Linked DNA regions of Homo sapiens: region 1 is linked to region 2. Evidence: fine-mapped expression QTL. A gene starts in region 2. The other region holds a variant in brackets. All regions are shown on one strand. Distances are from middle to middle. Region 1 holds the start of LOC107986197 (a long non-coding RNA gene). Region 2 holds the start of GATB (glutamyl-tRNA amidotransferase subunit B).

The links. PIP is the estimated chance that this variant, and not a neighbour inherited with it, causes the effect. A credible set is the group of variants that fine-mapping cannot tell apart.
Region 1: its variant is the best candidate, but not a certain one, in a credible set for the expression of GATB in lymphoblastoid cells (GEUVADIS, PIP 0.64).

What each region holds. Positions count from the first base shown.
Region 1 is chr4:151,671,575-151,675,966 of GRCh38, forward strand. GATB (glutamyl-tRNA amidotransferase subunit B) reads right to left here. Exons shown (of 13, transcript NM_004564.3): 12 at 1,188-1,322. It overlaps LOC107986197 (a long non-coding RNA gene), which reads left to right and starts at 15. Exons shown (of 2, transcript XR_001741447.3): 1 at 15-4,392. RefSeq lists an enhancer at 973-1,772. The variant A/G (reference allele first, on the strand shown) is at 2,647.
Region 2 is chr4:151,759,155-151,763,546 of GRCh38, forward strand. GATB (glutamyl-tRNA amidotransferase subunit B) reads right to left here and starts at 1,853. Exons shown (of 13, transcript NM_004564.3): 1 at 1,653-1,853. The coding sequence starts at 1,828. RefSeq lists an enhancer at 1,569-1,848.

The DNA.
Region 1 (4,392 bases), 88 kb before region 2:
GCCCTCCCCTCTGCGACGCCACAATGACCGAGGACACTGAGTCTGGGGAGGGATAATCTCTCTGAGATGATGAATCACTGCGTCTAATCAGTGAGGACACCTCTCTGATTCTCAGTGATGTTCAGCTGAAATGTGTGGCTTTCCTTCTCCCCCTGCTCCCCACCAAGAAGATTCCTTTATCAGAAAGCAGATCTACACACTGGCCGAGTCTTCCAGAGCGCTGGGTCGGGGGGAGTGTGCTGTGTGGGCAGGGGGAGTGAGGAAGCCAGGAGGTGCTGAATTCCTATCAGATAGCCACTGACTCTTAGGGCCACCACGTGACCTCCTGCTCTGCAGCGTCTCCAAGGGCAATGACATGAGGATCTGCACTCAAGTGCCACAGAACAAGCCTGAAACTACTGGCACGTCTTTATCAGTCACCACAGATGAGGCAGGAAGACGAGGCTGTGGAGGCCCAGTGCAGGCTCATTTTCCTTATCGAGAGCTCTTTACAGAGCTGTGAGTGTCCCCGGCAAGCTGATGGGTGGGTGGGTATTATTCTGAAAAAGATGCCGACAATTTTTTTCCCCACTGAAAAAATATCTCTAGACAATATGATTAGACTTGGGGAGGGAGGGATGCCACTCGTTTTAGCTTTTATGTCTTGTGCTGTGCTAAGAACACAAAATGACCTGGTTTTCAGTCATGCTCCTGTCAGGGATTTTCTCCACAATTTATGAATACTTTTCCCTTCTGCCTTTCTTCCCACCTCTTAGAAGCATGAAGCTGAAGTTCCTGTACTCTCCCTGCTCTGCCGGCACACCTGCTGGTTCTTTACTGGGAGGTCCTTAGGAAGTAGCGCTAACCACAACAGATTCGAAATGCCAACCCTGGGAGAGGGCGACACACCTGGGAGGTCACAGCTTGGATTTCGTGAGCTTGCTGACACCCTTTTAAACTACACCTCCATGGAGAGTAAACTCCAGGGGTGGCATCCTTCTTATAGGAAAAGAAGTTGTGTTTTTCCAATATCCACCTATTTCATCTCTTCTGACCTTAACTAAAAAGATGACAGTGAGGGAATTATTGATGAAACTGGGTCAGCCATTCTTAGGAAGAGCCTCTGGGCTGCCACAGGGAGCGATGGCGAGGCTCTTGGGCATGTCCTGGGGCTGGCTCTGGCCCTCTCCCCTGCCCGAGATAGTCACCACTTGAGGATGGGCCTCCATCACAGAGTGGCAGAGCTGCTCCAGTGCCCCCTGGTCCTGCATCAGTTCAAGCTGCTTTTCTGAAACAATCTGCCCTGGAGTCTTGCCTTCCCTCTTCCACAGTTCCTCAAACACCTATGGACCAGAGAAGGGAGAGGAAAGAGAAATGAGAAGTCAGCTCTTCTGCCAGCTCCATTTGCAGTGCTGTGCTGTGTGGAGCTGGGGTGGGAATGAGCAGATTCAATTAAGTCCCCACTGCCTGGGCCTGGCCCAAAGGGAAAGGGCACCTGGCTGCCCTGCCAGAGCGTTGGCTCTCCTGAGGCATCCCTGAGTGCAGGGCTGGGGAACAAGGCCAGCTAGGTGGAGTGAATGCACCTGGGGTCTCCTCCTGAGGCTGAAGTCTCCCTCAGCATAAGGTGTGAGAGGACTCGGGCCAGCCAGATGCCCTCGTGCCCAGAGGGATGGTGAGTCCTGCCCGGCTGACTCCACATGGCGGGGGGGGGCCGCGGGAGGCGTGGAGGTGCCCATCACTCATGGGCGCCTGCTGACGGGAGTCGGCGGGCCACTGATGGATCTGTCTCATGGCCGCCGAATTAATTGAGGTGACATTTTGGTGAAGGATGGGGCCACACAGCCTGCAGGAGGTAACCACGGTACTAAATAAAGTCCAGAAACAGCATGCTGGGAAAGATGACTTTAGGGAGGCAGGAAAGTAGCCCCGTAATGAAGATACAAAATGGCAAACAACTGAAAACATAAATTAGAATCCACAGGGGCCCCCTGGCCTACCACATTCATCTCCTACAGGTAGAGCCGGACCCAAATCAGACTAGGATAATGAACGCTAATGTTTGGGGCATTTTTTTTTTACTTAAAAAATGACAACAACAAATCCCCAAATTCATCAAACCTGAGAAAAAGGAAACCATTTTCAAGGAAGGCTATTTCCTAGGGTAGCTGTTTTCCTCATTTCTCTTGTCTTCTAGCGAAAGCCAGAATTGGGAGCCGGGAGGAGGGCTTCCTCTGTTGGTCTCCCACCGGTGCCACCTCCGTCCAGTCCACAGTCATGACTGAACACCCAACTTTCCCTGTTACCTTGGTGGCCGAGAACGGGCCAACCAGGAGCCATTCCTCCTGGAAAAACAGAGCTCTTCCATAATTAGCACGAACAGCAAAGCAAATAAAAGGGAGATGCTCTGAGTCTCAGCAGGGCTCAAAGTCTTCCCCAGTCTGATTCAAAAACAAACCACAAATACTTATCACTGCTGGGACAGGCACTGCGCCTTCAGCCTGGTGCCTCAGAACGTGCGCTGTGACTGTGGCCAAGGAGGTGTGCTTGGCAGGTCCTGGGTAAGCTCCCTACAGGGCACCCCTCTGCCGCTGCCCGACTGCTCAGGAAAAGCCTGGCCCTACTCTTAGAAAAATACAGAATGCACGTGCCTCCAACTCAATTCAGCAG[A/G]TATGTACGTGGCCTGACAATGAGGAAACCATTGGGAGAAAGGGGGCACAGAAGCGGGAAGAAACTTCCTCACTCTCAACATGCTTATCAGTGGAGTGCTGCCAGCAGAAGCACTGGGGACCTGGATGGCGTTCCATGGAGCTGCCCTGTAAGTCGGAGGAGTCCATCTGCCCCCTTTCTCTGACACGTTTATTTTTTGAACTAGGACTTAAATTTTAAAAATCATTTTCTAATAATAAAAGTTAATACACATTCACTGCAGAAAATATAAGGAAATACAGGAGAGATCAAAAGAGATCACCGGAATTCCCATTTTCTCAAGAAAACCAATGTTAATATTTTGGTGTTTTTTCTTCCCATCTTTTTCTTTCTGTTTTGTAACATACTTGGGATCATAACGTATATTCAGTTTGTGTCCTGCTTTCTTTCATTTAGCACAGAAGTACTTTCTTAATAAAAAGATCTAGCTAGTATCCATCAGATGTATTTATCATAATTTATCCCCTCCTCGTAGATATCTAGACTTTGACCAGTGTTGATTTTGTTCATCTGCACAGACTCCCAAAAAAGCTCCTAGCTGAAAACCTGGCTCAAAACAGAAACCACCTGTAAGGACTTGCTCGTGAAAAATCTACGCAGCAGTTCCCTCCAGGAAAACCAGGCGGACGAGCAGCCTGTGCCTGGAAGTAGGCGGGGCCCCTCCTGGGTCTGCGTCTGCAGACACAGACCAGGGAGCGATTTCTCAGCGCCTGTGGTAGCTGCTGCGGTGGGAAGCACACGGCAGACCCTGAGCAGGCTGGCCAGTGAGCCAGCCTCTTTCTGACGGGACCCACAGCTCGAATGTTGGCTGGATTTGCCTGGGCCAAAATAAGCGGAAGAGTGGCAGAGTGCTTGGGGATCACTTCCAATCACACCATTCAGAAGGAGAAGCAGTGCACCTCTAGGACAGATGCCTTCAAACGAAGAGGCTGGCTGCTCCCCGAGAAGGAGGGCCAGGCGGGGTGGTACCAAGCAGTGCCGCTAGAGAAACATCATTCAGCAGCCTCCTGGAACACATGGGAGCCCGGTGGCTGAAATGTCCTTTCCTCCCAGAGTTAGAATACATAATGTTAGTTAACTCCACAAATTAGTGCAGTGGCCATGACAGTCGAGGCCCCCAGTCCCCAGTCCCCTAGGCTTATACAACAGACGCCGGTTGTCCCATCCTTTGCTCAATCCTATTTAAGACGAGGATTGTGCACTCCTGGCTGGAGTCCAGGAGGGTGGGAGCCACTGGGTGGTAGTGGAGCGGCCCTGTCTCCAGGCCAGACTCTCCTGCTCCTGGCCCTCTTGACGCTCACAGAGTGGCCTCTGTGGCTGCCGAGCCCTGTGCTGCAGCATAAATCCTCAGCTTTTGTCTGTGTTTAATCCCACCCTGAGAAGTGATATCCAAGTGCAACTGTTTCCAGCCAGGAGCGCAGCTCCCAGGCCCTGCTGCTGCCTACCCAAGACAAACAGATGTAACAAGGAATTTCTAGCACAGTGCTGGTCCTCTGTGTTAATAAATGGCCGACCAGGAGTACTGGGTAATGCAAGCTGGGAACTCCCCATCACACACAGACACTGGAGCCGGCTCTGACACATGGGGCAGAGACTCGGCCTTTGGTTCCCTGAGGACTGAATTTACACACCCTCTTAGTTGCCACCCAACTGTTTCTAGCTAAAGCTATTTTTGAAGTATCCTGAAGGAAAGCACACAAGACTCTA
Region 2 (4,392 bases):
GAGGCTGATGATATAAACATGAAGGCTATAGAGAAAGGAACAATTTGGCGTCTTAAAACAATTTAGAAATGGGTATCAGGTGACAACTGCTTGGCTGACTTCAGTGAAAAGCGGCATTTAACAAATTAACTGTAACTTATCAAGTAATCACTCAGTAAATGATGAAAGCTGATCTTTCCCACATTATCTAGAATTAACATAAATGGCAACATTCTACTACTAGAGAAATAATGATAAATAGTTCCACGTCTCTTATTTAAAAAGGAAATTCTCAACCATGTTTTGGTTTGCATGTATAATAACCAGAGAGACACAGATACAATAAATCACCACTAAATGATACTCTTAAAAAAATTTTGCAAAACTCCACCACACTAAACCATCTGATGCGGCATATTTTTGGTCCCCCAAATCACTTTCAATTCCTGAGACCTAATTTCAGGTTACTTTTTTAATGCTTATTTGCTATCAAATCTAAGAAGCTGTTAAATGCTATAATAATCTCTCTTATCTGGTCAGTCCTACTCTGTTGGGTCTGTACATAGGCCTCTCCAGGTCCTTATAAATGTGCTTATTCCCTATGAAATCCATGTATGTTCCTATCCTGCTCTTCTCCCAAGTAATTTTGTGTATATACATATATATATATATACATATTTTACATCGTTTTGTTTTGTTTCAATCATTTCAACATATAAAGTTCTATATCTGAAGTACTGCAAGAATAAGTCCTTCTTTTTAAAGTTTGGAAACACAGCCCATAAGGGAGGGGAATTAAAGTAGGAACTCATTAGAAATTCTGCATGCAGTAAAGCACCATTCAAAGTATTTTTGCATTTCCATTACATGAGAGAAAAAATGTACTTTCCATTCACAAGGAAACAATCTAATTCACGAAAAGAATACAAAACTGAATACTTCTTTCTGGACAATTTCCCTCTGTTCCTCCAACTGAAAGTAAAAATAATGCCAACTAGTCTCAAAGAATAAACAAAATATTAGAAACTTGCCATATGTTTCTGTATTTAAAGAGAAACTATTTAATTCTTACATAATGAAGCATAAACAGCTGTTCAGGGGATATCTGGCCAAATAAGCAAAACTCTCCATATAACCAGGGGGAGTATCTCTTCTTTTGGCTGCGTCCTCCTAGGTCTAGTCACACATATTCCAACATAAAACGCCTGCACAGATAGCTAGTGTTTTCTGACTAATGACAATAACCCACCACTACCAAGAGCTTGTAGGTAAAGGCTCCCTTTCTACCTTTAGAACGCTGCCAGCCCATACTAGCGCTAAATAAAATCAGCTAAATATGATCCCGCTTCTCGTGTCACCGTCCCCACTGCTAGTGCTATTAGTAAGATGACCGAATCCACTCTTCTGTCTGTGCACCCTTCAAGAAAATATTTGCTATTTTACACTCGCGAATTCCCCAACTACATCTATTTGAAAACAGTGGTTTATATATGGGGGCGGAGTTGATAGAAAGTCTGTTTGTGCTTTTATTTAGGTTTCGGGGCTCCAGGTTATAACTCAACGCCCTCCCGTCAGCCAAAACGTCTAGAAGCTGGGCCGTAATTGCCATTATTTCCCCAGTCCTGCAGTTCCACCTCACAGTTAGGTGGGCAGAAATGTATGAAACAGAATACCCTTTCCTCGTCTTCTGGGCCGTGTGGAGGGGCTGCTGAGCCACTGAGCTCTCTCCCCTAATCTGGTTGGATGTGGACCCAGTCGGAGCCCCTCTTCGGTGGCAAGAACCACCGTCAACCCGGGCGAAAGCCCAACGTCTTCCACGGCAGCCCCAGCGCAGCATGGGCGCCGCCATTGTAACTCCAGGGTCTTGGTCAGGTGACTCAGCCTCACTATGCCGCGAGGCTCCCTGGGAAGCGTAGTTCTGGAAATGCATTAAAAACGCCATAGGCTCGGACCGGAAGACTACTATTCCCGGCGAGCATTGTGATTCGAAGCCTGCCGGAACCCCGCGGAGAGGGGAGGGAAGGAGAAATAGAGGAGAGGGTGGGAGGGTTTCTGGGTGGGGAGGTGTGACTCCTCCTAGCGGGGAGTTGGAGAGGTTTGTGGCTGTGAGCGTGTGTATAAGTTAGAGTGTGAGCGCTTGATGCTTGGTGCTAAAGCGTGGCCGGGATTTTATAACCCAGTTAACCTTGCAAGGGGAAGTAAATGACCTTGACAGCTCAGCAGAGACTTCCTCAGCCCCCAAACCCAATCCGTTATATTCTCTGTCTACTCTCCTGCTTCACTCAGCAATTTGTGCGTTAATGCAACAAATACTTATTTGCATGCCTACCGTAATGCCAGGCTCAGTTCTCTTAGGCACTGTAGTTACTGCAGAGATCAAGACAGTTATGGCCCGCATGTTCATGGAGCTTACATTCTAAAGAAGGGAGACATACAGAAGTTAACAAAAATAAGATACTTCCATATAGGTAGTAAGTGCTATGTTTAAGCAGAGGTAATTGGAGACAAACAGCCCTAGATTGAATGTTCATGTACATTTTAACCTCCTTTTTATTATTGGCCAGTATCAGAAACACACTCCTTATATGCTAGGAGCAGATACCATCGTCCCAGCGGACTTCCTTCATTTTCCTGTGTCAAAACTAATACCCCTTGTTAAAACTGCCACCGATTTCTTGTGTTTGAACACAGTCTAGAATAGTCATTTAGCCACTCTCTATTTCATCACCCGACTTTGATTGTCCTCGTAGTGCTTTTGACTGCCTGATGTTTATCTTCTATTTCCACAAATTCCTCGTCTGTCTTATTCACTACAGTACAAAGTAGGTTCCTTAAAAATATTTGTTGAATAAAGTAGTGCAGTGTGGAGAATGCATTTGACAAAGGATGGAGTGGATGCCCTTTGGAGCAGTAATTGTTTAGGGGAGAGATGATGAGTTAGGGTGGTGGCAGAGCCAAAGAGAAATGGATCTGTTTGAGATAGATATAGGAAGTAAAATTGAAGGACTCTGATGGATTGGATATGATGGTGGAAGGCTAGGAGAAACAAATAACTCCTGGATTTCTGGTTTGCACAACTGGCTGATGAAGTTATCCACCGAGATAAGGAAACCAGAAAAGGAACAGGTTTGCAAAGAAAACATATGAGTTTGGTTGCCTTGGAGACATTCAAGAGGAGAAATCAAGTAGACATCAGTGATGCCTAATTCTGAGTATAGAGCAGGGCAAGGGGAAAAGCTGCATATTTTGTATACTTCACATTGATAGATTTTCAGTTATTGATCAATAATCCATTGATTAGTTGGCTGTAACCTTTGATCTTTTCCTTTAATACACTTCAATTGCATATCCATATGGAAGAAAGAAACTTTAGTTACTGTCCTTAAAATTGTCATCATTTATTTTTTCCATCTTTTCTACTTTTTCATCCACTATCACTGTTCTAAATTGCCACACCAGAAGTATCAGTCATTTGACCAAGGATGAAAATGACAAAAATGACAGGGACTGGAAGGGAGTGGTGGAGACTTGTTCCAAAATTTCTCTCTAATTATTGCCCTTTATTTAAGGTTCAGATGATTCTCTAGATCCTTTACTAGAGTCTTCCCTCTGAGTTTCCATGTTTTCCACCTTTACTCTAGGTAAGCTAGCTTTCTTTTACTTATTTAGCTCCTCAGGTTTTTCTGGCCCAGACTAGGGGTCAGGAGAGTTGCCTCTGAGCACAAAATGGCTTCACTTTTGTTAGGACAACAGAGGAGAATGGAATCTTGTATCTCTAGCTAAAAAGAGAGGGGGACACTTGTTACCTCATCGCTGGTAATCAGCATCCTTAAAAGGCGATTCACTCCATCAAATGGAAGATTGGGAATGTTTTGAAAACCACTGTAAGGGAGAGCAACACATTTAATGAAAATCCTAATCTTACGGGTAAAACGCGCTATAAGGGAAGCTCATCTTTGTTTCTGAAGCGGTATTATTCAGTAATAGGCTATCGCCTCAAAGGCCCCACCCCACCACTAGAGGAGATAAAAATCCTACGCATGTAAGTGTATTTGCTTCCTTTCACGAACGGAAACCGGCCAGTTTCCTGCATCTTGTCTCTATCTAATCATTGCCCTTTCAAAAATCCTATAGAACTAATCGTGGAAATAGAGACTTGTCAATAACCATCTCTTTGGCTGTCCTCTCCCTCAAGACTATTTGTCATTTCCCGAAATGCCTGTAGTTTTCCTTGTGAAAACAGGAGCACTGTTTTCTGAGTGCTCCCCCTGCCTTGCTCCTTAGCTGGTCATACTCCCACCAAACCGCCTTCTGTGGGACCATTTCTAGCCTTCCTGCTGCATGCCAAATCTGATATCTGTCAGAACTATTGCTGATAGACAGCTCTCCAGCTGCGAGAGCTATTTTGGTTGC